2 separate regions of the Homo sapiens genome follow, and region 2 is linked to region 1. The links come from fine-mapping of genetic effects on plasma protein levels. A gene starts in region 1. The other region holds a variant in brackets. All regions are shown on one strand. Distances are between the middles of the regions. Region 1 holds the start of LRIG3 (leucine rich repeats and immunoglobulin like domains 3). Region 2 overlaps LRIG3 (leucine rich repeats and immunoglobulin like domains 3).

Region 1 (15,753 bases):
TTTACTTTTTTTGAGTTGATGTCTCTGAACTCTGATTTACACTGCAGGTACCACACTTAAAACAGGATACTCCAATGGCTTATTCTCAACTCCGGTTTCTCCTCACAAAGCAACTCTGATCATTCTCCACTAGGAACTACGTAATACATAACCCACAGATCCCCATGCCAACCATTGAGCGATACTAAAATTAAAGTCCTAGTCTACAGAATACGATAAAATACACATTTCTATGGTGTAAAGCTGGCCTCTTTGAATCTCGAAGACCAGTTCGGCAACAACAGCAAAGTGTAAAGTGTGTTGTTATAAGAATACATGAAATTTAGCAGTGAGAGAGTTAGAGGCTAGAAAACAAGTTAACCAATTTAAAGCGCGTATCTTTACTATGCCCTGAAAAAAATATTCCATTTTTTTCTTCTAAGATCTCTATGCTAGTCCCTATGGAACTCCCACTCAAGGTTCCTGCAAACATACATGAGGAATTCTGCTGATATTCACTTACAAGGAGAGAAGTGTAATATTTGCCGAGACTGGTCCCAGATTTGGAATGGTCTCCAATTCATTGTTGTTCAGTTTCCTACAAATGCCAAAAAAAAAAAGAAAAAGAAAAGCTGATTAGGTAATCTGTAATTCACAGAGGTGAAAACTTTACATATTATTTCAAGATACCACCCAAGTTAAAAGTTTTGAATAACTCACTATAATCCAAGTATTCCTTACGGTTAAATAGTATAAGGGGTAACGTATTTTACTCAAACCTTAAAAACAAAATAACGAAGACTCACACTTCTCGAAGGCTTTGAAGGTGGCTCATGGAACTTGCCTTGATGAAAGATAATCTGTTGTGACTTAAGTCCCTATAAGAAAACAAAAATAAAATTATAAGTCATTTCTAAAAATCACTAATAGTGCTAACTGGGCTTATGAAGTATCTCTATGAACACCAGTGAGAGCAGGAGAAATAATTGGTCTATTCTGTCCACAAACTAGATGGCAACCAAAATGCCAAACTCAAAAATACAAGCTCCAAGGACAAAATTAGTTTAGGGAGACTGGCAGATTCAAATACTTTAAGCCCACAAATGTTTTAAGAGATGTTTTTTTGGCACGTGGTGAACAGATCTTTTGTGAACTGGCAGGTCTGCTTCACCCTCCCATCTCCCCACTCCTAACCTGATATGATGACATCATGGTTTAAGAAAAGGAGCTAATTAGGCAGGTTGCTGAAACTAAAGCCTCTATAGAAATCTTTTTATTGTCATACATTTAAGCATCAATGTCCTTATTGCAGTCAAGGAAAACAGAAATTGCTTTGCATACATATTTGTTTCTCTGCGTTAAAGCACCAAATCATTTAAAGCATTATTTTGTGTGTGAGTGTTGAGAGGGTAGAAAACAATCTGAACCCTCTGCTTTCTTAAATTCCCCAAATATCAATATCTGATAATATAAAATTTAAACCACATCGCCATCTAACAAAGTTCAGCAGATTGCACAAAAACTTGTGAACAGATTTCAATCATTAAAATAAATGTGCTTCTTACTCAATAACTCAATTTAACTTAGTAACAATTTCCATAGAACATCATTACTATTAAAAACAATAACAAACTCATACATATACAATACTCTAGGCTAGAAAGTCATCTCATTTAAGATTCAAAATATGGAACAAATTCCAGCAAATATTCTTGGTTATATTCCCCATATGTGTTAACACATTGACTATGTGCCTTCAAAATAGTGTAATAAAAATGAAATGGTTCCAGAGTGATGAAAAACCGGGATAACAAATAGTATGGCTTGAAGCTTCCCACTGAAAGGGTTATCCAACCCATACTAATTTTTTTGGTGTTTAAAACGGAGTTTTTTAAATAACCAAAGTTGATTGGAGAAAAGCATGAATTATTTGTTATATGCATAAGTACACCCCTCCTAAAAAATAAATAAAGAGAAATCACCTCCAGAGAAGCACAGTGTTACTCAGTGTTTAGTTAACAATTAGAAATCAGAGTTCCTTTCAGTCTTTGAGTTTCTGTTTTGAGAATAAACCTGGATTCTCTTTTTCACCTAAAAAAAAAAATCTGCAAGGTTTTATTTGAAGTATGTTTGCCCAAAGACCTACCAGACAGTGACAGACATGAGTAGATTTGTTCTGGTAGAGTTATAACATGAAAAAAATCTGGCACAGTCTTTAAACTATAAAAATCCTGCAATTACAACCACTGCTGTGCATGCTCACCACGCTGGCTGGAGCCAGACACTTTCCCTTGCAGCCCAGCTCAAGTCCATCTGGAGTTCATCAAGGAAACCGTGAGCCCAACAACTCACGTTAGGATTCAAACAAAACCTGTGTGCTTTTAGCACCCCAGACAGTCACAGATTTCCCACATGGTTTAAAAAACAACCAAGGAAAAGAGTCTTTCACCTGGGAGGTAGCCTGAGTCAACAGAAAGTCTCATTTGGACCCACTTAACTAAAGAGCATTGAGCCAGCGTAAAACTGCATCCCCTATTGTTTCAGGTCTTAAAAAGAAAGGGGAAGCAATCTGGCATTAATATTTAACACAGGTGATTCTCTTTTTAATTAAAAATAAAAAAACACTAAAACTGAGGATTAACTTCATTTTAAGGATTATTTCACAGGGCAATCCTGTGAGAGAAATGAGACGGAGTGCTTAACTTTTTTCAACTAGTAATGGGATAAGATTCCTCCTACAAAAGACCTGTAAAAAATAAGAAACTCCCTTCAGAGACCAGTGCACATGCTGGGGACCCCTCATTTCTGATCCAGAAGCAGGAGCTTGAAACTTTGAATATTTCAGTTATTGCAACACATTTCCATTCTTGAGTTTTGTGTACTATTAAAACTACATTATATGTAGGAGGAAAAAAAACACCCCTTAAATGACATTTACTGCTAAATACTTACAGCTATGAAACTTTTAGTGTACCTAAATTTAGATTTAATATAGTTTACATTTGAGAAATGATTACTTTCCAGTTAAGGGATGTCACATTTTCCTAAATCTTCCTTACATTGTTTTTATGGCTAGACCATTAAAAACAGATTCAAGTTGTACAACGTCGATGTTTTCTTAAACCCAGATCATAAAACATTCAATAAGAAAGGCAGATTCTTCATGTTTAGAGTTCCATTAATAGCATCTTCCCCACAAAACTTTTACAAAAACTTTTTGTAGTGGGGTTAATGAATGGGAAAGGTAGTAAGGTACGGAAGTGTTAACTGTACCCAGAGCTCAGCTGGCCAACACTTGAAAGTCAAACTCTTTCTATATGGTTAGACAGACTTCTCTCTTCCTGAATATTAGCAAATGAATAAATATATATGAAAATAATCAATTTGCAACATTTGGTTCAAGCTGTCATTTTCTTCCTTTTAGCATTTGGAAATCTGACTTCCAAGTCAAATTTTAAATGCAAATCCAGCACAGCTTCTTAAGCAATCCCACTGGGGCCTGCAGAGCTGCTAATTCAGCACAAATCTGGAAAGCTGAAAAACAAAAAGCCAGGCTATAGCTGTTTTAAGACACTGATCCAAAGTGACTCATAAATCAGCCTGCTATATTCAAGTTTTAGTCTGGAAAATACAGAAAAACAGCTGTGAAAACCATAAGGACTATTACCCCCACCCCACCCCCAACTGTGGTCCGGACCATAAGATTTATAACAGGTCAACACTAAAGAAGTCACACCAGCAGAAACTACCTTTGGGACTTTCGCCTGGGTCCTGTTGAGAACTCAAACATTTCTACATAAGACAAATAATTCTGAAATGCCAGTGAGAATTTAATAATACTGGAAGTTCTCATTGGCAATTTAGCAACTTTTCCGTCTCTGGGCTAAATAACATTCTAACAAGCATTCCTCTTTAGGTTGAGAACTGTTTAAGCGCAAACTCTTGACATAAACTCTAGCTTGCCTTTAATGGCAGTTGTGAGCAAGGCTTGGCGTAGTTACTGGGTTGTTTTTTTTTAGACAAAGTCTCGCTCACATAGTTACTCTTTAAGAGCCACTTTCATTAAAGCATTAGAGGTTATTTTCTAAAAGGAGTACTGATACAGTATTATTATTTTACAGCTCAAACTATTCGACTTTTCACACATGGGACTCCTATAGTAATAAATCACAACCAAATAAAGTGGAAAAAATACATACACACGTAATTTTTCTTAAACTTGCAAATTCAACAAATGAAACAAAAGATAGACACTGAACTTTTTCTGAAAAGTGCTTTCATAAGCCAGTCCAAAGACAAACTCCTACTATTTTGATTACCCAAGGAAAGGGAAGGTAAGATATGGGGAACAAAAACATGCATTTTTCTATTTATATCTGAACTCGGAAATCATCTCCTTAAGACGATTTTTCTAATTACGAAAAACTTTAGTAGCTTTTTAGACCACCTATTCTAAAATACCAAATAACAGAGAAAGTAAAACTCAATTCCACGTGTTTTTCTGCTCCTTTCAAAAGTGGAAAGAGGAGACCTCTAGAGCTTTAGGTACAAACAAAAGAAATATTTACAATAAAGAATCCAGACCACATGGTTTGGTGACACCTACAAAGATGGTTAAAAGTCACAGAAGTACAGGAATGACAGAGCTGTCCAATAAGTGATCACAGCAGGGTTCCTGACAACAGACTGAGTGCTTATTTATACAAGTGGAACTTATTTTCACATACATTTAAGGAATGTGGGCTAGTATTGAGACAATTTACTGCTGGTGGAAATGTAATTAAAGACTGTGCTAACCAAATAAACTCTAATTTGTTTTTAGTGTGCCACCAAATTATCTGCAAAACAAAATCCTAATTAGGTCAGCTACTTTTAAGACAATGTTTAAATAGGTATCGAACCCCTTTTGGTTCAACTCAACTTCTGATCAAGGGCAACACAGATTTTTTTTCTAAACATCTAAATCCAGGAAAAAAGAAAAAAAGTACTGCACACTAGCATGATCACAATAGACAACTTGACATTGAAAAACTATCGAATACAAGTTAGATGCCGTGAATAATCTAAGCATATCTAAATACACTCCAGGAAGCACTGTATTCATTTTCTCTTTCTCATCCCTCTATTATTCCTAAGTGTTCACCTCCAGTCATTTACATGTTCAGTTCCATATGTTGTCAATAGAGCCATTCACTCATGAATAAGGCAGCATGACCTCCACAAGAGGCAATTTAACAGAATTAGCCACAACTAATTGAAAGTCTCCCTGCTTTCGGTTAAAGACCTTATCTCCTCTTCCAATTGCAATAAAAACTACTAAATAAAACGTCCCAAGAAATTAAATATCAATCCAATACTAATTCTACTTTATTAAACTAAGGCTTATTAAAAACACAAGGAATATACTTTCTGATGGCCAACAATTCTACATTCACAAAAGTTATTTAGATTAGCACAATAATTTTAAAATATAAATTCTTAAACACCTGACCAAACCTCCTACCACATTAGGGCATTGGAATAGTTCACTAGAATTGTTTTAAAAACTTAAAATTTTCATTGCAATTCTGCTAAGTCAAAATATAAGATTACGTATGAAGTGCACTTTTATTTTAAACAGAACAACTACTTTAAAAAATACAAATTTTGATTGTTTACTTTTTACAGCACTCCAATTTTAAAACTGGGACTGAGGAAGAAAAGAGATGACATTTGGAAAAGATCAGCATTTCCAACTAAATTACATTTTCTTCCTTGTTCTTCACGCAGTTGGCAGTGATTTCAGGTTTTCAGACTTCGCAGCTAAAAATCCAAAAACTTGCATAAGAGCTCCCTGCGCTCTCCCCTAAACCGTCTGGGCGTTCTGAGGAGCTACAGAAATCACGCCCTTGATTCTGGATAATCGAGTTCCGCCCTTTCCATAGCTACCGACCAGTCTTTACAATCTGGTTGAGGAGTGGGAACTTACGGTCTGCTAATGTGAAAAAGCAAGCAGAGGGAGAACAACAGAAGTACGTCCACCATAACTTGGAGAATGACCGAATTCTGTTGAGGGGGCTTCCCAAATGAAAAGCCTGACTTCAGTTACTGGGTGGGAACAGGAAAAGGAGTCTGACGCAGCTAGAAACTAAAACTGAACCAGACTCATAACTCAGCGAGAACTGCAAACTCCTGATGTGTGCAGGTTGCCGCTTATCTCCCCTGGGCCTGGCAGGAGCAAGCATTTGAACCCCTTGGCTAGCTTAGGGCGCAGGACTTCATCCCCAATCTCTGGCGTCGTTACTGGCCCCCAACCCTGGTCTACCTGCAGCCAGTTAGGACGCGCCAAGAGCCCACCTGCGCCGCCCGCAAAGCACGTGGGAGGGAAACTGAGGCCCGGACAGTTCTTTTTCCACGCCCACGGAGCGCCGATCGCGGCCTGGGCCAGAAGGAGCTATACGGCAAAAAGGGGACTGCACGCCGAACCCCATTCCCCGCCGGCTCCTGTTTTCTCGAATCTCCAGCGGCCCGGGCCCCCTCCCCCCGCGGGAAGAATACTTACAGCCGAGCGACCCAGGACGGGAGTGGCTCGGGAAGACGCGCTAGCCGCTTACGACTGCAGTCCAGCAGGTCCCCGAGGCAGCGGCAGGTAGTGGGGCATGGGCGCTCGGCGGCTACCCCAGAGGGCTGCCCGAGTTCCCCGCGACCGCCGCTGTCTGACCGGCCAGCGCGCCCCAGCACCGCGCACAGCAGCAGCCCCAACCCCGCGGCGCGCGCACGGAGGCTCGGCGCGCTCATCGCGGTCCAGCGGCCTAGGTCTCTACCCGAAGCTCCCAGCCGGCGCGCGCTCGGGGCCCGGCACAAACTTCCAGCCGAGGGTGCACGCCCGCCCTCGCGGTCGCGTGCGCGCTCCTCCCTCGCGCTGCCCGGTCAATTCCTTCTTTTACTCCCGGCGGCGAAGCCCTTTCATGCCCCCAAACAGCAGGAGGGAAACCGAAAAGAACTGCCAACTGCAACAGAGTTGCAGCTTGAGCAGCGTCGGCTCGCCGAAGCCCCTTCTTGTCTGCAAAAGAAACTTTTTCGCCTCCACCCCGCGGCACTGCGCCAAGTCCCCGCGCGGCGGAGTAGCAAGGCGGGCGGGTAGAGGCCGACGCGCGCCCATTGGCCGACTCGGCTGCGGGCGTCCCCGTGGCCACGTGACAATAACACCGCTCCAGCCGGGGGCCTACGCGCGGGAGAAAGTGGAGCTGAGATTGTAGGAAATTCAGAGTTATATTTTCCAGCCTCTCCAGCCAGAAGTCTCCACTACGTCGTGGGAAACATATATCAAATGGAGTTGAAAGGCAAAAGGAAGTGAGCAAATACTGGGCTAGTTCTCGGAGTTGGAGGTATTTAGGAGAACTTCAGGGAAGTAAAGTTTAATTAGCAGTGTTTTCAGGAAACTTTTCAATTCCAAATTAAAGACACTGATAAATTATCCTACCATCCACAGATGAAAGAGTGGTTTCAATGAAAACAGCTCTTTCAACGTTAATGCTGGTGGGTGTTCCCCCATACATCGGCTTCAAAAGTAAAAACAATAATAAAACGTAAAACTCGTGGTTTTGGAAAGTGTATATTGAATTACAAATAGCCAGCCTTCGTGCACTGGATAAAGCTGGGCGGGGTGGGGGATGGGAGATGACCTTCTAATAGACCTCGATGGCAATCATAGATTCCTGGTAATAGTAATAATAAAAGTAGTCACAGTGACATTTCAAAGTAAAATGAAAACTAAGACCTTGGAGGAAAAAATTAGTATATGCACCTTGGTCCACTTGCGCTTTGAGTAATGACACATGTTGATTGAGAATGCTACCAGGGTAAAAGTACCTCCCGGCCTCCTCAGCTGGGGGAGTGGATGTTTGGGGCTGGATTCAGGCTACAGGACTTCCCAGTGAAGTTTGTTCCTTAACTTACAGGTGATCAGCGCCACAAGATGTTGAAACTAATGGAGACCGCAGAGATCATGTGCTAAGGGGCCTTCCTCCTCTGGGTAAGGAAATAGACCTAGAGAACGTAACTAATGTGTTTGTTGCAAAAAAAATAAAAATAAAAGCAAGACAGAAAACATGAACAAACCAAAAAACAAACCCTGGAAGCTTAAAGTAAGTTTTCACTTCTATACATTGTTTATTGCATGCTGTCTGCCCAAGCTTGTCTGTCCTTGGAGTTGCGTAAACTGCTCATGATTGAGGAGTGGAGATAGCTTGTGGAGTTGAGACTTTAACCCTGACTCTAAGGCCCATTGATTTTTCACTGTAGCAAATCACTCCCACTTACGGGGGAAGGAAAAGACTCACTTTGAAGTTAACACACCCTATTTTAGATATGGTATCCCATTTTCTTATTTCCAGCTACCATTAACAACAACGCTACTACCTTTTTGGATGATGTATAATTATAATTAGAAAATATCTATAATGATGGCACCTTGGTTTTGAATTTATGATTTTGTCTGCTTGGGAGTAGACAAAACACACTACAGTCATAGTAAGGATTTTCCAGCTCAGTATCCCCCATCTATTTTTATTTATTTTTTTTATTTTTTTATTTTTGAGATGGAGACACTCCAGTCTGTCACCCAGGCTGGAGTGGGGTGCAGTGATGCGATGTCGGCTCGCTGCAACCTCTACCCCCTGGGTTCAAGCAATTATCCTGCTTCAGCCTCCCAAGTAGCTGGGATTACAGGTGCCCACCACCACACCCGGCTAATTTTTTTGTATTTTTAGTGGAGACAGGGTTTCACCATGTTGGCCAAGCTGGTTTCTAACTCCTGACCTCAGGCTATCCGCCCGCTTTGGCCTCCCAAAGTGTTGGGATTACAGGCGTGAGCCACCACACCCGGCCCCCCATCTATTTCATACAAGGAAAATTAGGTATAATTCATTGAAGTTTTTAAAAAGAAGAAAGATTCCATTGTACACATGCCATTATGCATAAGCAAGGTAACATCAGTATGGAGGCTTGCTCTTGAGACATGAGACATATGACAGGGATATAAATGTGCTACCATTTTGGGGAGTTTTGGCTCATTTCCTTTTCTCATTCTTTATTCTCCTTGTATAATTTCATCTTCTTCCATGAATTCCATTTACATTTACATGCTGACATATACAACATCCATATTTCAGCCCAGGTCTTTTTCCTAAACTCGAAATCCATATGTGCAATTACCCACAGGTCATTAAAAATTGGATGTTCAAATGTAACATGTCTAGAATTAAATTTCACCACCCTTGAAACTGACTTGTTTCCTCCTGAATTCACTGTCTTAAAGAGTGGATACTTCCCTCCATCCAGATGAATGCCCCAGAAACCTGAAAGTCACCTTAACATTACTTCATTCTCACCACCACCACCACCACCACCAGAGTCAATCAATTAGCAAGTCATGTTAAAGCTAGCTCCTAAATGTATCTTCTCTCTGTAGAAATTATGCAAATCCAGACCACCAGCAGCTCTTGCCACCTATCAGGCATTCCACTGCTTTCTCCTCAGGGCAGTTAAGTGATATCTCTGAAGGTCAAATCTGAGCCTGTGACTCAACTGACCAGTTCTTTTCTTGGGTTCCTAGTGTCTTGAGAATAAGGTTCAAATTCTTTAGAGTGACTTATACAGTTTTGTTTGTTTGTTTTGGCATTGAGCCTCTATTTATCTCTTTAATTCATTGTCTTTCATCATTTTTCTCCTACTCTAGGAGCTACTTGCAATTCTCTTCCCAGCTGTACTCTTGCCTTCAGCCCTCTTGCAAATGGTTCTTCTGTCCAAATCATTCTCTGCTCCTTCTTCTGCCTGGTTGATGGCATTCCTTCTTTGGCAAACACTTCCCTGAGTCAGGTTTAACTATCTATACCTCCAGTATACTTCCAGCACATCAGTATTGACTGGAATGTAATAGACCATTTTCACTCTAACCCCCAGGTAATACTACAGAATTTTCCGATAACCATGTATTCCTTATCGCCTTTAAGGGTTTTACCAGCTATTGTGAAGTTAAATTACCTAAGTTTTCAGTACCCCAGTTTCTCAGTCTGTAAATTGGGAATACAATAAAAAACGATCTTATCTGGCTGGCTTCCATTTATCAGTTACTGGATTAGCAGTCACTCTGTTCTCTCTGTACAACCTGACTGATGCCTATGACCAGCTGAAATCTAGAAACTACCAGCCTCTCCTTAGAACAGCCTTTGCATATTTGCTCCTACCTGTCAGGTGCTGATCCACAGTAGTTACAGACTTGTTTATATATATTATTAATGTTACACAATATTGTGTAAACCAAATACAAGTGCAACAAGAAAATACCTTTATTTCTATGATAATGAATTTGAAGGTTGGGAAAGATTCTTTAAAGGTAATCGATAAAACAATGCTATCCAATTAGATGAAGATAAGACAGTTGTAAATATGGGAGGAGGAGATTACAAATATCTAGGAGATTTTTTTGGAAAGGTTACTTTGCAAGTAAGATCTTGTTCCACTTTAATTGTATTTGGGAATTAATCAACAGAGGACGTTTTATGGGTGTGGCTTAAGCTTACTCAGAACTTAATGGGATCATTGAGAGAGTAAAAGAGGATGACATGGAAAGAATACAGCGCACATTAAAAATCACTGTTCTACATTTCGATATGTGCTTAACCATGTGGTCAATACAAAGGGGAACTAGTCCTACATGAAAACTTAATTTTTTTATTTTTATTTTTTTGAGACAGGGTCTCACTCTGTCACCTAGGCTGAAATGCAGTGGCGGGATATTGGCTCACTGCAGCCTCAACTTCCTGGGCTCAGGCGATCCTCCCACTTCAGCCTCCTGAATAGCTGGGACCACAGGCGCATGCCACCATACCAGTCTAATTTTTGTATTTTTAATATATGTATATATAGATATATATATATATAGAGAGAGAGAGATGGCGTTTAACCATGTTGTCCAGTCTGGTCTCGAACTCCTGGGCTCAAGAAATCCATCTACTCGTTTCGGCATCCCAAAGTGCTGGAATTACAGGCATGAGCCACCTGCCTGGCTGAAACTTTACATCAATGTAATATTTTCACAGGCTTCTCAAACCTTTCATGAACCACAGGGCAGAGAGAACTTCCACTGGGTATCCATCTGGGCAGATGAGAACTAATATCTTTTGAGGTCCCTTACAGCTCTGTTCTGATTCCTTTACAGTATATAGAAAATAGGCGTGAAGGCAGAGTGACAGCAAAGATAGTTGTAATAGAGGAAGAAGAGGTACATAAAATTCTGTTTAATCTCCCAAAATGTATCAGGGAATAACAGTGACCTAGAAACAGGATTAATGTATCACTGAATTCTCTGATACTCTTATGATGTCATTTTCTTGTATACACACACACACACACACACACACACACACACAGAGGACACAGTGCTATCAAATGTTGAATCTCAGTTTTTGTGGATAATGGCTTACAAATAAGAATTTAGTATGAGAAAGTCAAATTCATTTTGACCAGAGGTCTTTTAACATTTGAAATAAAATGAGATAAGATGTTGGATTTCTCTACTCCTTCAGAGGTTTACACTGGTTAACCAGGTAGTTGGAAGTTAGCTTTCCATTGGAAATTGCTGAGATCACACCAGACAGTTTCTCGTTTCCAGCTGTGTCCCAGTGAATGGCAAGTTTCATCCATTTTCAAAAGGGTCTCCTACCACCCATTTTGTGGTGAGCATAACCCAATCCCAGTGCTCTTTTTAGTTTTCCTGGTCTTTTTTCTTTCTCTGGCAAGTGTGAGACTTTCTTATCTTGAGTGCTGGCAAGGCCAGTGACTCACCGATAAAAAGTAATAGAGGTGCTAAACTGTCAGTTTTAACATCCAAGGACAAGAATGAAAGCTAAACACTCAGTACTTGCTTTATCATTACAATGAATGACACAGTTTGTGTAAGTGGGAGCTGTGAAAAGGGAAAAGAGATAAGGCAAAGGAGGAAGAAAAGCACAAAAATCCCCAGATAATGATGCCAAAAGCAAATGTTGCTGTACTTTGTAACTTAACCATATCTTTTCCCATTCATTAAGGCATTTTAGAAGAAATAGATAACCTTCCTTTCTCTCTCTCTCTCTCACACACACATACAAACACACAAAATGCACAGCTTCACTTAGAGAGCAGATTACTTTACACAACCCCTGCTATGAACATGTCTTAACTTTCAGAAAATATTTAGAAAAATAAAGATAGCCACCCATCTGTTTTTCTCAAGTTGGCCAACTGTGTGATATTATTTGAATTGAAAACAAACAGTGTTATCTCAACTGCAAATTAATATATGCTATTTTGTATTTTACTCATTTCCCATGTCACCGTCTGGGAATAATGTGAGCTCTGAGGAAAACTCATACTGTAGACAACACTGGATATCCTGGAAATCATTTTGGAGCTGCTGGGAGTCTGGAGATGGGGTAGGGAATGGGAAAAGGGGGAGGGCGCCTTCAGCTTCCACCAGACCCTCCTTAAGGCAGAGTGTCCTTCCCAGCAGTAGAGCCTTTGAGTGGTCTCCAGTTTTCCCATTCCTTTGAGAACCTCAGAACACTTTCTCTTCTTTTTCCAATCCTTGCTTCTTCTTCTTCTCTTTTTTTTTTCTGTAGCCAGCTGCAATCCTAAAACTCCACTGAGAATCTCAACTCATGTCAAATAGCCTACCCTGTCAGGAATACAGAAATCTAAATGCTTGAAAAATTGTCAGAGAAGAAGCGGGGTGGTCAGAAGGTGAAATGCTGTAACTTTGGATTTCCTCACACTTCTATGCTCCATTTTTCTCACCTGTAAAATCCAGTGAAAAATGATACCTTGCTGTACCGTAGTACAATATTTTGTAACTATAACGTCCCATATAGATTCTAGTTCCTATTACTTCCAAATTGCTGTTTTCATTATTCAGGGAGACAAAGTGAGTGCGCTACGGAAACATCCCACTGCTGAGATTAATTTCCAATGGAATGTTGGGATTAAGTAAACCTTCAACTATTAATATAAAATAGAATGAGGAAAATAATATTTAATTTTAAAATGAAAACAAAACTTAAACCACTTTTAACCTTAATACAAGGCTCTAAATCTGTCTGTTATGACAGCATACTGTACATATTCTGAGATTTTTTTTTTTAGTAGGAATTTTATTATGCCATCTCAAGAAGTTACTGCATAACTCAATTTGTTATGATTTATGCCATGAGTTCAGAAAGAATCATTAGGCATATTTACTAAAAAGACTTATATATCCCTCCTGGGAACTTTTTGCAGAATGTTTTTCTCCCACTTCTTGGATGAACAGTTGGCCTATGCACTATTCTAAGAATTAATTTGCATTTCAGAACCATGAGAGCACTTATACATGAGTTATTTATTGCTTTTATTTATAGTTTCATCCTCTTACACATATTACATTTACCCAGGCCTGACTATCAAATTATTAAGGTGACTTTGTCATAAACATTGTCAGAATCAAGTTCCCTGCACTGAAAGCTCTGCTTCTGTCCCTAAATATAAGGATTGCTATCGAGTTACAATATGATTCCACATATGTATTTTCAAATAGACAGTGAGGGATAATTTTGGTGGAATGGGGTCAGTTTCAGCAAGATGCTGTGCACCTGTCACAGTACGGACAGTACGGATACTTCCTTGATAACATCTTAAAATTTAGCCCAAAGCTTTCCACACTTCTGCTATGTGTATACATCCATGCAGAAAGATTTCCGCTGAAATACTGACGTGGAGCATGAAGATGCTCTGCAAGAACACCTCACTCATCTGCTTGCCCCAGGCACAACTGTGACTACAGCAGGAAACCTCTTCTGCTCCCACAGCAGTTATTTCAGACTTGAAAAACTTTTTTTTCAGTCAGAACATTCATCTTTACAGCCCACATAAATAAACTTCTGCTCTCTTGTCATTTGAATATGTTTGATCTATTTTTATCCTGGGCAAAATCGAAGCTGTCACCAGCAATATTCCTTAGCTATCTCTTTGCAAATTAAATAATTACAATTCTTTTTTTTTCTTTTTTTGAGATGGAGTCTCGCTCTGTCACCCAGACTGGAGTGCGGTGGCATGATCTCTGCTCACTGCAACCTCCGCCTCCCAGGTTCAAGTGATTCTCCTGCCTCAACCTCCTGAGTAGCAGGGATTACAGACACGCACCACCATGGCCAGCTAATTTTTTGTATTTTTAGTAGAGACGGGGTTTCACCATGATGGCCAAGCTGGTTTTGAACTCCTGACCTCAAGTGATCTGCTCGCCTTGGCCTCCCAAAGTGCTAGGATTACAGGCATAAGACACGGCACCCGGCCTAATAGTTACAATTATTTTAAACACTTTTGCATGAACACTACTGTTCTTCTATCTCACACTCTTATGTGTATCAGGGATGTCTTTCTGCTTATGTGCCTTATAGAAATGAATATGGAGACATTGAGGTATGAGGCCCTTTCAGCTATACAAATGATATTTGACATTTATCAAGCTCTTATTACTCTTACTATTCTCTAGATATTTGATATTATTAACTAATTTATTTTTTATAATCACCTTCTAAGTTATTATCCCCACATTACCAGATAAGGAAACAGAGGGATGGAGATGCTAAGGAATTTACCTGTGATGGAGTTGGGATACAAACTCAGTCAACCTGACCTCACAGTGTACCCCTTGACCACTATGCTACCCTGCTTTCCACTAGAGTCAGAAGAAGCAAGGATTTTCACTGTCTTCCTTAGTGCTAAAAAGGAGTTTCCAGTAGATTGAAAACAATAAGGAAAGTATGGACCTTGCCTGGTTTTTTGAAGGTGGTCAGTTGCAATCACTCCCCCTCCTTTTTTTCCTCCTTTCCTCATTGATCCAAAAAAGATTCATTTTATGCAGATGTATGAATCAATCACTTTAGGGTCCGATTTGTGAAGGTTGATGTCCTGCCCAGATATCAGAGTAGTGCTCCGAATCTAACCATTAGAGATGAACTATGGGGTTCAGACATTACTGTCTTTCTGAAGTCCTCTTTGGCAATATCAATATACCCTCACCTCCAGGAGTGTTACATAAGGTATCATTGACATTTTATGGTCAGTGTTCTATAAAACTAAGTTTGGCTCACAGGAGAACCTAGGTGGTTGGTAATCAGAAGAGGAAAAGGATGCAGAAAGGGAAACAGGCTTTTCTTTCTTCACAGTTTTGTCTAGGGCTGCACCTAATTAGGGGAACCATGAATGGGGTGCATGTGGTCCCACAAGTCCAGGGAAATGAAATATTAATGCTAGAGATTGTTTTTACTGTTGAGATACTTCACATGTGGTAACAGAATTTTTCTTTTTGTTTATGGGCAAATGCTAATTTTTATGCTTTTCTAACTTCTGAACAGTATAAGGAAAAAATTTTAAACAAAAGTGTCCCAAATTGGCTGAGTTTAAATTCTAGTTTCCCATTCAGCTTTTTATGTTTTGAGGCTGAGCTTCAAGTCCACTGCCAAAGGAACATCTCAGAGGCTTCCGTTCTTTAGGAGACTACCTGAGTCATCTCAGTGAGGCTTGAGTTAGAATCTTCCCTCAAATTCAGACACAACACAAATTCTAAAAGTCATTATATTCATTTAAGTTATATTCATTGTCTTAATTTATACTTAAGCCATTCAGTAACATGATAAATACTTTCTGCTATGAGTAACACAATACACCTACTAGAATTCTGATAAAATCTATATTTTCTGATAAGAGAAAGTACTAGAG
Region 2 (15,753 bases), 44 kb before region 1:
AAGCAAGACAATTATTTCAGGACTTTCCTATTACACATTAGTTTAAGAAATGCCCCATAAAAAAGGTTAAGTTCTGGCACCTAGATATTTCTGGAGTATGAAAATTATTCAATTCATGAAGAAACTGTACCTTTCTTTGAAGACTAATTGTTTTCTTGGCAGGGTACTGTGTTATCCAATGTGTTAACAGAATGCTGTCTTAAACAATGAGTTCAAAGTTATCCTATTACATAAATCTGATCATTTCAGATCGCAAGAGTGGGAAGGACAGCTCAGGCATTTTGCAAGGACATTTGGTTCCCATTCTCTTGAAGAATACCAGTGTAGCACATCTATCATAATATTGGTTATAAATTACTTCCTATCACATTGAATTGAAAGAAATAAAGCCTCCCAAGTGTGTAGAAACACCAAACCACTTTCCTTGGTTCTGTCAATCTTTAAAAAGTAGTGTGGCTCTATTCTGAGCAGTAACTTTTGGTTTCTTTCTGTAGAAAGGCTGTGAAAATAAATTATATATATTCCACAGATACTTAACTTTCATAAAATTTTGCCAGAACTAAGGAATATTTTTCCCCAATATCCTACAATTAGTGCCAATAGTGGAATTAAGATATAAATAATACAGAAATTTTGTGAACATCTATTAAAATATGTTGTACATGAACTCCTATCAAAAAGCATAGGATGATTAAACTGGAATTTTTAAGTATTCCTCCAAGCAATGTGACATTTATCTACATTAGGCTTTTTACCTTGAGTCTATGTTATTTTAGGTTATCTTACCACCTACTAGATTGATTTTGTTAATTCAATTTGGAGTCTCAAAATCATATATATTCTTTTCCTGCAAATGTCAAAGAGAAATCAAGTTCCTACTCTTTCTCCAGACAGTTAACATTACATCTAATCCACAAATTTCAGCACATACACCCAGTAAAAGGGTAAAATCATACTGATGTAGAGTGAATCTAATTTTTGAATTTCAGGCGTTAATGATTTAAACCTTTGTGCTTAAGTACGGAAAAATTAAATCCTTTAAAAGAAGTTCATAATAACTGAAAAAGGCCCCATCTGGCAATAATGAAGACAAATTAACAATAAAATTTTGAAAATCTGGCAATATGATCAAGCCAAAGCATACGAAATTACTTCTCTGTACTTAGTCACTGGTGGTCCAAGGAAGGATCAACTTCCTGTCTTGGATTCTGGCGTCTAAATTAAAGCAGGAAAATCGACTGCAATCTGGGTTCCAGGCTTCTGGCTCACAAGCAACAAAGCTCGAAACTCACTAAAAGCAGGAAGACTTTAACCCCAACATATTCTCTAAGAAGAATCTGCTTTTTGAATAGCTGCTTTCAGTTTAGTTCAAACACAAGACAATGGCATAAATTCACACCTTGGAGGTTAGTTGACTTTTAAAGCTTATTGTGCTATATTAACTCCTTTTGTGCCAATTTATCTTGAGCAAGAGGGTTTTTCTTTAAACTACACATATGAGCTAGAATTTACTACAGAAGAAAAAAGTTTTATAATCTGAATTATTAAACTGAATTTTTTTTCCTTTCAGTTACTTTGAATTGTGTCATCTAGTTTTGAAAATATGGTTATATTCCAATGAGAACACATGGACACAGGAAGGGGAACATCACACACTGGGGCCTGTTGCGGGGTGAGGGGAGCAGGGAGGGATAGCATTTGGAGATATACCTAATGTTAAATGATGAGTTACTGGGTTCAGCACACCAACATGGCACATGTATACATATGTAACTAACCTGCACGTTGTACACATGTACCCTAAAACTTAAAGTATAATTAAAAAAAAAAAGAAAATATGGTTATATTCATTTTTCTGTGTATATATGCCTGCCATGTAATTACATTTTTCAATGAATACTGTTTTAAAACAAATGTTTTAGTTTTATGTGCTTAAGTAAGATATTTTATACTTAGTTTTTAACCAAACCTTGATGATCAAAGAAAATATTTTGGTAATTGTTCAAAAATAGCTTAGAAGTACCATTTATATACAAACTGCTCTTCCAGCAGAAAATCAATAAAAACAGAAAACAATTCTAGCAGCATCTCATTACAACCTGGAACAGTGCATGAAAGTCCACTTCTGCTAGAGCCATTTTAGCTATAGACATATGCAATAAACCACTCGCTTGCTGTAAGAAAAGGGACGGCAAAAGTGAAACTACTTGGATAAGCATAAGGCATTAGACCACGTAAACCATTATTATAATTAAAGAAACATGAATTGAGCAGTGATTTATGGTAGTTGTACTATATTACACCAGATTATAACAACAAATCTTTTTTTGTTCGTAGATTTAGAAATAATGTACCTTAAATCTCTGTAGCTCCTTCTCGTTTACAATTGTGCTTTCATATGCACAATCTGATTTCAATCTGTATTACAACAATCCTGGGAGGTAGAAAAAACGGTCATTTTTGTTCATACTTTAATGGGCTAAATATAATTCCCATCCGTTTGAGACATGATAATGTGAACTAATTAAGCCTAAATTGTGCTAAAAATAATAAAAATTGTTATTGTATAAATGGGGCTTGGCATCAAATTGACACATTTTATTAAATATAATGTGCAAAATATAATGAAGTAACTTCTATTTAAAAAATGGTACAAGGCAGGTATTATTTAAAATGCTTTAGTAACTCATTTTCCATAAAAAGAAATCTGGCATTATAAAAATACATAAAATAATCATGATTTATATCATTAATTTACGTAAGATACTTTTTTGCATAAAACAAAGTTAAAAAATAGTTTAAAAAGGTATTCTTATATGAGCATCATTCCCAGTATAAAAATTTTCATAACTTTTTGTAATTTTGGTTCATCTGTATAAATAAAGCATTTTTATCCTTTTAAAATTCATAACTCCATTTAAAAAACATAAGATTCTCTCTCTTTTAAATAAAAGTTCACTTGAGGTAGTATGTTAAGCTTTTCCTTTGGTCTCATTCAGTCTATGTGTCCAAGTCATAAGACTGAAAATTTGGAGTCCTGTAGTTTTCTAAAGTCTGTTTAAAGGTACAAATGTGATTTTCTTCCTGAAAATCTGTCCTTTCTTTCCCATCTTCCTCTGACCCAGAGTCCAAGTCTGGGGAAGAATGAGCTTTCAAATAAAAGGCTCTTGGCTGACAATCTGATGGCTGTCCAAAGCTTGAATAGGCATCTAGGTGAGGTCTCCTGAGAGCTTTTCCAAAGGTACCTGAAAGAAAGAAACACCTTGAGCACATGGGTCCCTTTGCTAGCATGTGAATCAATAAAACCCATTGCAAATGAAGGAACATCTTACCCCATGAATATGAGTAAGTGTTTTCTACAAGTCCACATTATGGCACTCACATACATGTACATCTGTCTTACAGCCAGATCACTTCTAGAATGGAGCAAAAGACATTTGCCTTCCCTCATATTTACATCCACTGAACAAATGCATCTATTCTTTATCATTTCTCATGACCTGTAGTAATGTTAATGGTCATGCAATAAAGTTCCCCAATATAAGTTTCCCCACATCCTAGCTGAGAGCCCAATTTTGGTGACGGGTGTGTTGGATGGTAACATCCAAGTTAACTGAGGCTAAATAAAGAAATTTTCTTTCAAAATAAACCTGTGTCCTGCCCTTTCTTCATTAATTGTAGCCAAATATTACTCAATTGAATCAAATTCTTGCCTCAGTTATACAAAGCATATTATTTTAATTTTTTCCAAAAAAGGAATATAAATAATTACACTGTGATAAAACATAACATTTCGTAGAAGTTGGGTAAAATATTTGAAAATTCTCCTTTTTTAAATTTTATTGTCAACATGGCAAGTTGTGGCTGATTTTTCCATCTCTCTGTTCAGTGAAAAGATGACCTCAGCTCTTCCATCCTATTATCCCCATGCATCAGACGAAAAAATTCACTACCTAATCTCAGTGCCAGCCAGCATCTAACACCACCGACTTGGACCTTAAGGCTGGTTTTCTTGGCCAAAGGTAGTCCAGCTTGTCAGACTAGCAGTTGTTGCTAGGTAGGATGTTGTTTTCCACCCTTCGACTGCGGGTTCAGTTGGAAGCCACCAGACATACCAAACCACAATCATGCAGAGCACACAACTCCACCCCAAAGGCCGTGGGAGCCCAAAACCACTTTTTCCACATGGCTGACAAGCTGAGCTCCTAAGTCCTCCCCAAACCCTTGTCTTGGAGTAGATGCCACACACAGTGCTACCCAGAAAGCTCCTGAGGCTTAGTTATAGATTAAACACATCATCAAGTAAAATCCCACCTCTGACTTTGCTTTTGGAGGCATTTACACTAACTAGTCGGATGTCATGGCAGCCTCATTCAAGAAACCATTTTTTACCAGTTTGACATTCAAGGCTGTCATTGCTCTCTCACACACAACTTGGAGTATGGATCCTCAGACGAGGTACCTGATAACTTAATAAACTTACCCATGAAAGAATTACTCGAGGCAACCGACGCTGGCTCTGGATTTGCACTAAAATCTAAAGAGGACTTGTTTAGACACAGATTTTTCATTCCAGGTCCTTCATTGTGAGAGTAACTAGTGTTAAGTAGCTTCCTCACATGTGAAGGCCACGATATATTACTGAAGCTCCGTTCGCAGGATTCTTCTGAAGGATGAGAACATGGGTAGCACTCCTTTTTCTTTATGTAACTGGGCTCATAGTGGTCCATTAAAACTGTTCTTGGGTCAGGACTGCAACCTTTTTAATATGGGGGCAGTAACAGAAGGAGATTACAGTTAGCACATCTAGAAGTCTCTCTAAGAAACAGAACTGTACTCAAGCAAGAAAACCACCTACCTGTATGATATGTTTCAAAAGGATCTGAGCCATACACATTTCCCTTCAAATACATAGGGCCTGTGGATCCCAAAAACGGACAAAGGAACAGATCTGTGGCAGCTTCCACATCAGCTTCACTGCTATTGTCAATATGGCAGGTCCCTTTGAAACAAAAATCTTAGTCAATGATCCAATTATTCAAGTGCCATTCAACATTCTCCCCAGTTTTGGCATCTTCCATATTTATAGATGAAAGTTTGACTAGAACATCATATAGACAAAAAAATTGCAAAAATTTACAGTAGGGTTTTAAAAAATTTATTAGAGGACTTAATTAGCCATTGTGCTAGGTGTGGTGGCCTTATTGCTCACTTGGTTTCTACGGGAAACTGATATGTGCAGATCCTGCAGCCAAAGCAGCCATGGTCTAAACCACATACCATCAGCACTGTCCCCTTCTTACAAAAGGTCCCAGATGACCAGAACCAGGATTGGCACTTGGCCAATGACCTCTTAATGCCCATCTCAAAGATAAGCTCAGCTAAACATATCATCTCATGAGTATCTGAACCAAACAACACAGAAATATACGCCATTTACTGCTGGACACAGCAGGTGAAGAGTAAATGATATCATCAGGGTTAGAGATGTCACGATGACGCATGTGTCTGGGAAGCAGAAACTGGGCAGCAAGAGGTGGTGGGCTGAGAGAAAAGCAAATATGCAGAACGTGACACAGTAATGCTGGTGGCCCAGAGCTACTCTGGGAGCAGCCTCATCTCCAGCCTCAGCATCTAGGCAGCCTGGCATTATTATGCCCCAGTTCTGTCCCTTTAGGTTTTCCTTAAGTGTCTTTTCAGTTAACCCCATTATGCTTTAATGAGCTTGGGTCTCCACTCTGCCTCTAAACGGGTCTAACCAGAATACTCACTTCTATGCTCAGATCCTGTAACTCTACGCTCTTTATTTCTGGCTTGCCAAGCACTTTTAGTTTATCCACCTCTGACGAAACTGTGAAATTGAAAACATATACTTCTCTCCCAACTACAATGTCTGGCACAGAGCGTATAATAAATACTTATGGGAAAAGTTGGTCATATATTTTAGAATAACATCGATGGCTTCCACTTGCTGAGCCCTTAATATGTGCCTAGCGCCATGTAGTTTTCCATCTTCATTTCATTTGCACAAGTACCTCACCAGAAAGTATTGTATGTGCCCCACAGTACATGCAGTAAGTAGTAGGTCTTGTACCAAACCTGTGCTCTTGTATTATGCTGTCTCCATTATTATTCTCAAAACTATGCAGCATTGAAAGCAAGGGTCAGAATTAGACTTCTCAAAGAGGCTGGGTGCGGTGGCTCACGCCTGTAATCCCAGCACTTTGGGAGGCTGAGGCAGGCAGATCACCTGAGGTCAGGAGTTCAAGACAAGCCTGGCCAACATGGCAAAACCCCATCTCTACTAAAAATACAAAAACAAAAGAAAGCATTAGCCAGGCGTGGTGGCATGTGGCTGTAGTCCCAGTTACTTGGGAGGCTGAGGCAGGAGAATCGTTTGAACCCAGCAGGTGGAGGCTGCAGTGAGCTGAGACCACGCCACTGCACTCCAGCCTGGGTGACAGAGCGAGACTTCGTCTCAAATAAATAAAAATAAATAAATAAAAAATAGACTTCTTAAAGAAAATAATGTAAACCATTAGACTTTTAAGCCCATTCATGTAACCAGTTAATATCATTTAAGGGCCAAAGAACATTTATAATGTAAAGGATACACAAATATCCTTTACACATGGAATAATTACATTTTTCTAAACCTACTAGTCTTTTTTTATTGTTAGAAACAAAGATTTATTTCTTTCCTAGTATTTAAGAGAACGGTATAGAACTATACAATTTCAACCTTGCTAGTGATCTTGGGCCAGGTCCTAAATGTCAGTGTTATCAATGTCTTGTGAAAATGAATATCATATCTGAGCCTTCCACCATATGACTTCAAAACAATTACAGCCCACATTCATTTTAAACACTTACCACTACTGTCATGTTGTGGTAAGAAAAATCCAGCACCTGAAGATGTGACAAACTGGTGGTGGCTTCCACTTTCTGAAGACACGTACCCATCCTGCCTGTCAGCTAACGTTCCCTGAGATGACAAATAACTAGGAATATCTGCTGGCAAGTTGGTCTCATCTGTAATAAAACAGCAGCATTTTATTAACCAAGGATGATCGTTAATTGTCCCACAGGCATCCCGGGTGAATGGCATAGACTATTTTGGCTTCTGTATACATCAAATTAGGGGAGATCTACTCTGGCAAAACCATCTCGATTGTACAGTATTCTGGAACGGCAAATTAGGGCTTTGCTGCTCTGGGACGTATAAGCTGACTTTCTGTTTTATCACCCATTGGATGCACCTCCCAAATTTCAAAACAACAAATGTTTAAACAGATTTTTTAAAAGGCTGAAGGCCTAAGAATTTTCATGGGACAGTATCTAAGCTTTCGAATTATGCTTGATTATTGCCATATTCCCTTCTTAATATTACTAATCAATATCTGACTTTGCACATACTAATCAAGTCACAGCTCCTCTTCCACTAATAAAATCCAACCTAAGTACATGCACATACGCACAGACAACAAGACATACAACTACTGCAGAGAGTAAACCTTATCATTAAAGGGCTGTTCCTGGTTCTCCATCACTATCTTATGAAGGAGTTAGAAATATTTTAGTCAGTGACTTGGATTTTATCTCACAGCCACAGGATACCCTGATGTCATTTTAACAAAAAGTATTAATCTTTAAACATCAGCTTTATTTGGGGCTGGAGTTTTTTAGCGAATCATATTTCTGCAGCTTGAAACAAATGAGTCACCCTTCTGAGATGAACTCAGACTGCAAGACACACGTTCTAGAAGTATTTGCAGAACCACAAATACACATGACTCCGGTGACCTGTGCCAAGCTTCTGTTTACACACCTGTGTTGGTAATGCTGCAATCTTCATTCCTCCGCCTTGTGTGGTATATGATGACCACCCACACGAGTGACGTGCCCACCACACAGCAAACCACGGCTATGATCACGACACCCACAGTGGCCCATCCGTCATCGTCTAACGATGGGGCTGTCATCTGAGGGGAGTCGCAGGTTGGAGTGGGGATCACACTGAGGCGCACGTTTCCTCTCTCAGTGCCAAGGGTGTTAGACATCTCACATGTGTATTTCCCAGCATCACTGACATCTGAGTCCACAATAATCAGAAGCTGATTGCCTGCTGCAAAAAAGTGCCTCTCGGTTACCACCAATGGGCTATCATCTTTGGTCCAGTTCAGTTTAGGGGGAGGGCTTCCTCCAGCAATGCACTGTAGGACGGCTGTTTCTCCCTTGGTTACAGTTCGGTCCAACAGTGGCCGCAAAAATGATGGTGTTTCTGAAATAACAAGTTATGCTTTTAATTTCCCAAATAAAATTTAGTTTCCATATCATAAAATGTAGCATTTAAACTTATTCAAATTGTAACCTAAAATTTTATTCTCCCACAACTTACTGGACACACTTTTCTAAGAGCCTAAACATATACAACATTCAGTATTTCACTATTCTGCTGTCATTTACTCATAACACCAGTTAAGGATAATATCTACTATTTTTAAAATCTCAGCTTCCCTCACTTTTGCAAAAGTCGGGAAGCTGGTAGTAGGGGGGGAGAGTGGGAAACAAAAGCTTTTTAAAAATAGAAAGTACAAAAATAATTTCAAGCACAAGGGTATGTTGATAAATAAAAAAAATCAGAATGCTTAAGTTTTTTAAGTGAAACTTTTTAGGGCCGGATGCCTGGGCCTATATTAAAACTCTGACAATAATTTACTTTTATTATTTAGTATCTTAATAGGTTACGTTAATTAGCTCTTTCAAAGATACGTGAATAATAATTGTGTTTACATTTTTAAAAAGCATTTGTTTAGGTAAAAGATGAAAAAAAAACTCTGACTTCCGGAGAGGTATGGTAGGCTGAGAAAAGAGAGTAAGGCCTTCCCAATTTGTTCCCACATTTTTTTTTAATGTTCTTTATGGTGTTAAGACTACTGATATAGACAGCACAGTGGGGAAATTAGAGGAGGGTGATCCCCCATAAAAGGGAAAGCATCCCAACTTTTCCTCGGCCCCTCTCTTCAGGATGGAGGGGGCAGGGATTCACCTCAGTGGCCAGACTTGAGGATGTCATGCAATCCCTGACTTCAAAGTGTTCAAGAGGCCATTTGCATTAATACTTTCTAGGAAAAGGCAATGCCCCATACATCTTCATCTCTTACTCTCACAACTTCTGATACTTAGGGACCTTGGATGAGCTAGTATCTTCAAGACTGATTTATACTACAGAATCTTAACAAATTCACCCACCTAGGACAGTCAGAGTTGCATTTGCTGAAATACTTCCTGCACTGTTCTGAGCTGTGCAGCTGTATACCCCAATGTCCTCTATCTTCACATCCACGATAAAGAACACGTCATCCTCGGGCATCACATGCATGCGTCTCTCCCGTGCAGCTGGGAAGTCTGTGCCCCCATCCTTCTGCCAGGCTATCTGGGGGGCTGGGTGCCCCACAGCAGCACACTCCAAGCGTGCCATGGCCCCAGCTCGGATGGTGAGATCCATGGGGGTCTTGGTGAATGAGGGAAGCACTGAAATCAGAGAAACAATATAGGCATTAGCACAGTGGAGTCTTACAGGTTCACTTGCATTCCTTTTTATTATTTGTTTGTTTGT[T/C]TGATACTTACAGATTGTCCCTGACATAGATTGGGCAGGGGTTAATTCCAATTTCAAGTCAAGGAAACTAAAGTTGAGATGGAAAGATTAAAAGGCTTGCTCAAGGTTACAGATACAGAAACAATGAAGTCAGGATAAAACAGAGGTCATCTGATTCTCAGAATGAAGGTCTTCCTGCTATTTTCTGCCACTTTTTAGTTTCCTCAACAATCAACTGTGAGATCTTGGGTGTATCAATTAATCTCTTTGTACCCTGACCACTCACTTCATCTATTTTTTTTTTAAAGTCTCTCCTGGTAGCTCTAACATTCTGTGACTTTTAAGATACATGTTTTGCCCTACAATTTAAACTCAAAACTGTTCTATGTGCCAGGCCACAGCCATCATTTGCTGAGTGAATGCATTAATGAATCATATTCAAAATCTTCTACCACGGCAGATACAGATAGTTAAATGATAAAGTGGCAAGGATCCTACTGTAAAACTGTATACCTACCACACAAAGCAAACAAGAATAGACTTCTGTTAACAGTGGCTAACAGTGCATTTACTGAGCACTACCTTGTAGCCATTTTGCTACATCCTTTACACATATTATTTCACTAAATGAGCATAATGCCTCTAGGGGGCAGGTCCTATTATCCCTAATTGAAAGATGTGGAACTGGAGGCGGAGAAGTGAAGCAACCTGCTGAAAATCACGCAGGAGTGGCAGGATTCACACACAGATCTCTGAATTAAAGGCAGTGTGCATCCAGCATGATGCTTTGCAGCCTTCCAGATCAGTATACTACACTGTAAACTCTCAAAGAGGAAAACATTGCTGGGCACGGTGGCTCACACCTGTAATCCCAGCCAGCACTTTGTGAGGCCAAGGTGGGCAGATCACAAGGTCAGGCGTTCGAGACCAGCCTGACCAATATAGTGAAACCCCGTCTCTACTAAAAATACAAAAAATTGGCCGGGCATGGTGGCGCACGCCTGTAATCCCAGCTACTCAGGAGGCTGAGGTAGGAGAATTGCTTGAATCTGGGAGGTGGAGGTTGCAGTGAGCCAAGATTGCAACCAGGATGTCATCCAGCCTTGGGTGACAGTGCAAGATTCCGTCTCAAAAAAAAAAAAAAGAAAAAGAAAAAAAAAAGAGCAAAAACATGTCTGGTTCATCTCTGTGTTACTCACCACACTGAGTACGGTGTCGTCTTCAACATAATTGCAGGTTTAGATACAAATAACCAAGAATCTTAATTTTGTGGAATGAAAGGTAGGGAAAGGAAGAGTCAGGTGGGGAACTGTGAGAAGAAAAGACAGGGTTAAGATTAAGAGAGAAAAACAGGTGCTTTCTATTTCTAAAAGGTATCTTTAAATGCTAAAGGAAAAGTCAGATCACATACTATTTACTGTAAGCTTGGCTTTGACAGAGTAGGATGAACCAAAGTGATTGGAGATGACACACTGATATTTCCCCTCACTGGCAAATTCCACCTCGCGCAGCCGAAGGATGGTGGTATACTCCATCACCTCGCCACCTTGGGCCCGGAGGTGTGCATAATTTTCCATTTCAGCATCATGCAGTAGTTCATTGTCTTTTTTCCAAGCAAAAGTCATTGGGGAATCACTGCTGCTGGCAGCTGAGCAGATGAAACTCAAATTGGAACCTTTTATTGCCGACTGTGTTTCTGGCTGAACCGTGATCTGGGGTTTGGGAAAATCATCTGTTAAAAATGGAGAGGAGGAGACAAAACAATGTTAAGGCTCAAGAGTCCAAATACTACTCAAATTTGAACACCAAGAAATGCAAAAACAGTGGCTTAGGTTTTACCCTTTGTGTATGTTTTCCAGATGGACTAGCCGTCCCCATGTTGAAATGATACACTGGGAGAGTATTTATAAAGTAACTCATTCATCTCGAATACAGATGCAGATCTATTTATCAATCACTATTACCTGAGAAAAGACTGTTATTTTGGAGCTATCGGAAAACCCACACTTTATTCCTGATCCCTTATGCTTTCTATAAGTAGAAGAAGAAAGCAGTTTAAAAACTTCCAGGCTCAGGGATCATTTTTGAATGCTACTATCAGAAACTGCAATTGTTCCCATGTTCTCCCCAGATAATGAGCAGCAAAATTAGGAAATCAAACATCAATCATGATTAATCAACAAAGACAGCCATTAACACTTCATTTACCAAAACAGAACCACTATTTAAAAACAGTAATTTAGGTAGAGGCAAAAAAAAAAAAAAAAAAAGCTGATAGCAAAAGAAAAAGCATCTGTAAAACAAACTGTAAGACACTGGCTTCAGCCTGGAGCTTTGAGCGGCCAATCGTGCCGCCGCGCTGCCCTGTCAAAGCTACATTATAATTAGAGCTAAGCAACTCTTTCATTCTAACAGTTATTTTTAGTTCTCTGTTACATTTTGGAAAAGTTACCTTTTTGAACTTCAGTTTCTCAGCCATGATCTAAACCCAGAAGGAAACATCTGAGATCTACCAAAGCGTACCATTTGGGTGCTACTATTTGAAAAGACAACTTTTTATGTGTATTGAATGGGTTATAGGGGATGCTTTGATAACTCCAGGGCTGCTATTTTTCAATGTCTGCATATTGTAATCGAGGTGTTTTCTGTACTATTCTGAAATTCTCATCTAATAAATCGATGTTCAGATTCACAAGGAAGTGAAAAAAACGATGGATACTATACATGTGTTTCAACGTAATAGGGGGATCAGATCTTGGGACTAAAAAACTATGAAACAAGGACCATGGGAAAGGAGCAGTTCAGGCCCTTACAGATGAATGCCAAAAGCTTATTCAGTTCCAAAAGCTACATCAGAGGTTTTATTTCCAGAAACTACTGGCACTGCTTAATGCTGCAACCTAAAAATATATATCGTGGACAAAGCAGTTTTAAGTAAATTTTTAAATGCCAATGCAAAAGAAGGTTCTTAATATTTTAACACCCATGCTTAAATAAAAGCAAATTCTGATTTATTGGTTTATAAAACATATTTATTTTTACAGAGGTCTCCATGGCAGCTAATAGTAAATGGCAGCATCATGTAATAGACAGAAAGTTACACCAGAGATGAAAACTTTTCTTTTAAATCCAGATCTGCTACTAACTAGCTATGTAAAGTTCAGGTAACTAGATTTCTAATGCTGAGATTCTTGGATGCTAAAACAATGGACCTTAAAATTATTTATAATAAATTCACATTTCCTATTACTTGTAAATGTTTTACCGACCAATAGTTAATTTTTTAGCACCCCATAAATCATTAATAATTTTCTCTTTCATGTAAACCTCCCAACAAGCCTCAGAGTTGGGAAGAGAAGAAAGGAGAGTCCCCATTTCATGGATGCAGAGACTAATATTTAGGGAATTTAAGTTAAGTAGAAGGGCTGAGATTACCCTTCCATTCTCCCAAGATCCAATTTCATTCTCATTCCACCGCACCATCCTGATGCCAAAACAAAGATGAAGCAATTTTAGAAAACTCTCTTTCCCATCTGTGAAATTAAAATAATCAGCAAACTATAGACCCATTTTCCTCTACCTCAGCAGAAATAAAAGCTTTATAAAGAGATCATAAATCTATTCAAAACCATTATTTGGATAAATGGGAGGGGGAAAAAAGAAGAATAAATAAAAGGCAAGGGCAATACTTATACTCACCACACACAAAGCCATCTGGGCTAACAGCAAAAATGCTTCTTCCTTTTAGCAGCTGAGGATGGGCACAACTGGCATTTACAAAGCTCTGAAAGTTGTTTTCCGCCACCCACTGTGGGAGCCATTTTAGCTGGCAATCGCACAAAAGGCTTGATGTATTTAAATGCCTGAGGAGAGTAATTACATTCAATTTGTTCTGTATGAAATGCAGATTTCTACAAGTAAACTAAACCCAAGTAAATATTAACAAAGCAATGAATTTGGAAACTGAATACACACATCCCATGGAATAAGTATCCCACAGTCCATTTTAAAATACAAGAAATGTATCTAGCATGATTTTCTGTTGTTCTTACTGTCCTACTGAGACAGAAGTGTTGATTTATCAAAAGTTCCTTACAACTGAAAAAATTACTACTATATTGGGTGACTGTACTATATTTGGTCCCACAAAGTTGCGAATTTAAAATAGAAAGAAAAACTCATTTCAACAAAAAGAACAAATAAACTCCTTTTCTGTTGCCTAGTATAAAAATTAAGTAATGTTAAGAATGTGCCAGGCACTTTTTATAGATACATAATCCAGGATGCCACACCATATGACAGTTTTCCCCTCTATACTTTCAGACTCCTAGAAGGAAAAGAAAAGCTTACAATTGTTGCAGTTTCTTCATTTGTGAAAATGCATTGCCTTGTAAAGACATGATTGCGTTGTCACTCAGGTCTCTGAAAAATCACCAAATCAAATGCATCAGAGCAAACTACCATCATTTCGTGCTTTTGGACAAAGTTTGGGCCCCCACTGCCCACCCCATTTGCCAAACAAATACTCCCTCTATGTGTCAAATACATGACTGGGGCAGCCCCAGAAGAATCCACTGCAAAGCTTGTGCTGAAGACCCAGGGCATTTGTATCACAGATAGGTTTTGTTTTAGTGAAAAAGATTCACTTTCTGTCATCACTTAAAGATTATTTGACTCATTAGGGCCCATGCTGTTCTATTATTTCATTCTATTACTCTTTATTCAAATTAGCAACTATTGGAAACTTCTAAATATACAAATAAAATATACAAATAAAAAATAAAAATAATTATGCTTTTATAAAACATTTACACAGTATTTTTGAAGATATGCACTCAGTTAAGTGATTTACAAGTGTTACTGCATTTATTCCTACAACAACCCAAAATATGATGGTATTACTACTTAGCTCAGCACGAAAGGGGAAGGTAAGGGTTGAAACAATTATTTTCAATTCCAAAACCTGTGCTTTTAACCATTAACCTAATTCTGTCACCCACAGCTCACTAACATAAACGCAGTAAGATGTTCAGACAAGATATACTTGTTAAAACCAATACTTCAGGCAGGAAATTCATAAAATGAGCACATATTCTGGATTAATTCTCTTTATACAGAGACTTATAAGCACTCTGCATTAAAGTATTCACCACAATGATTACCACTCTGTTTTTCTTTACAGGGGTCACAGTATACAAAGGGAATATTGAGTGAGACAAGTGGGAAGAGAAGACAAAGAAAGAAGGGACCAGACATGGCTAGACGAAGAGGCTGGGGCAATCAAGGAAGATTTAAGAAAACTGAAGCAGAGATTAATACTCCACTGATCCACTAATTCCACGTTCCCAGAAACGGAATGGGCCAAATGACAAACCCTTTTGGCTAGTTTTCTTTTCAAAATAATCGGTTTCAATAAATACTGCAATGTTGGTCTGCCCTTCCAAAACTCAGCTTTGCAGAATCATTCTACTATAATTTGAACTGCCGCACTCACTGTCTGGGTGGCTCACGATCCAAGTCTCCCTCAGAGGAACTGGTGCAGTCAGAAGGTGACAACACAGTGGTTTACAGATAACAGCTAAATCTTCACTCTCAATACACAGCACACATAGGAGAACCCAATATGTATTTTAAATTGTAACTTCTTTTGTCCTGGTTAATACATATTAAAACTTCTGGATACAAGCATTCCTTAACAGTCAGAGTCGATATTATACATTACTTTGTACTTTTACTGTACAAGCGTAAAACATACATCCATGGTTATAAGCAGCTGGTTGGTTCCCTTAGTTAAAACATGCAAGTTTTGATTCCTATCAATGTTAGCTAGCTTTCCTCTCTTAGTGGCTGAAAATTCCTGAGCCCCTAAATGACATTTCAGAAATGTGTGCCAGGAGTTACTAGGAGCTACTGGGAGTAGCGGCAGAGATTGTACAGGCAAGAGCTAGTGTGATGCAGGGACACTGTGCAAGTCGGGGCAGCTCTGGGTTGCGTCCTGCTTCTGACAGCTACTAACTGGTGGGTCAAGACGAAACAAAAGAAAACAACAAAAAAGAGAACAATGGTAAGGGGGGGTTGTATGTTTCATAATTAAACAACAATAAGAGACCAACAATTCTCAAAGTAGTGCTAAAACTCTCCTATGTCACTCTTAA

The links. A credible set is the group of variants that fine-mapping cannot tell apart. PIP is the posterior inclusion probability: the model's chance that the variant is causal. Sun 2018 read protein levels with aptamers (SomaScan).
Region 2: its variant is the best candidate, but not a certain one, in a credible set for the plasma level of the LRIG3 protein (Sun 2018, PIP 0.77).

The regions. Positions count from the first base shown.
Region 1 is chr12:58,913,480-58,929,232 of GRCh38, forward strand. It overlaps LRIG3 (leucine rich repeats and immunoglobulin like domains 3), which reads right to left and starts at 7,025. Exons shown (of 19, transcript NM_153377.5): 1 at 6,521-7,025; 2 at 786-857; 3 at 503-577. The coding sequence starts at 6,756. LRIG3-DT (LRIG3 divergent transcript) reads left to right here and starts at 7,225. Exons shown (of 6, transcript NR_183518.1): 1 at 7,225-7,311; 2 at 7,920-7,993. RefSeq lists enhancers at 5,922-6,191, 11,565-12,189 and silencers at 6,572-6,651, 7,072-7,181, 7,800-7,909.
Region 2 is chr12:58,869,572-58,885,324 of GRCh38, forward strand. LRIG3 (leucine rich repeats and immunoglobulin like domains 3) reads right to left here. Exons shown (of 19, transcript NM_153377.5): 11 at 13,949-14,020; 12 at 13,298-13,461; 13 at 11,010-11,330; 14 at 9,253-9,534; 15 at 7,829-8,281; 16 at 6,874-7,032; 17 at 4,859-5,002; 18 at 4,484-4,759; 19 at 2,584-3,245. The coding sequence ends at 3,001. Among named protein-coding and RNA genes, the nearest start is that of LRIG3, 43 kb to the right of the region's middle. The variant T/C (reference allele first, on the strand shown) is at 9,620.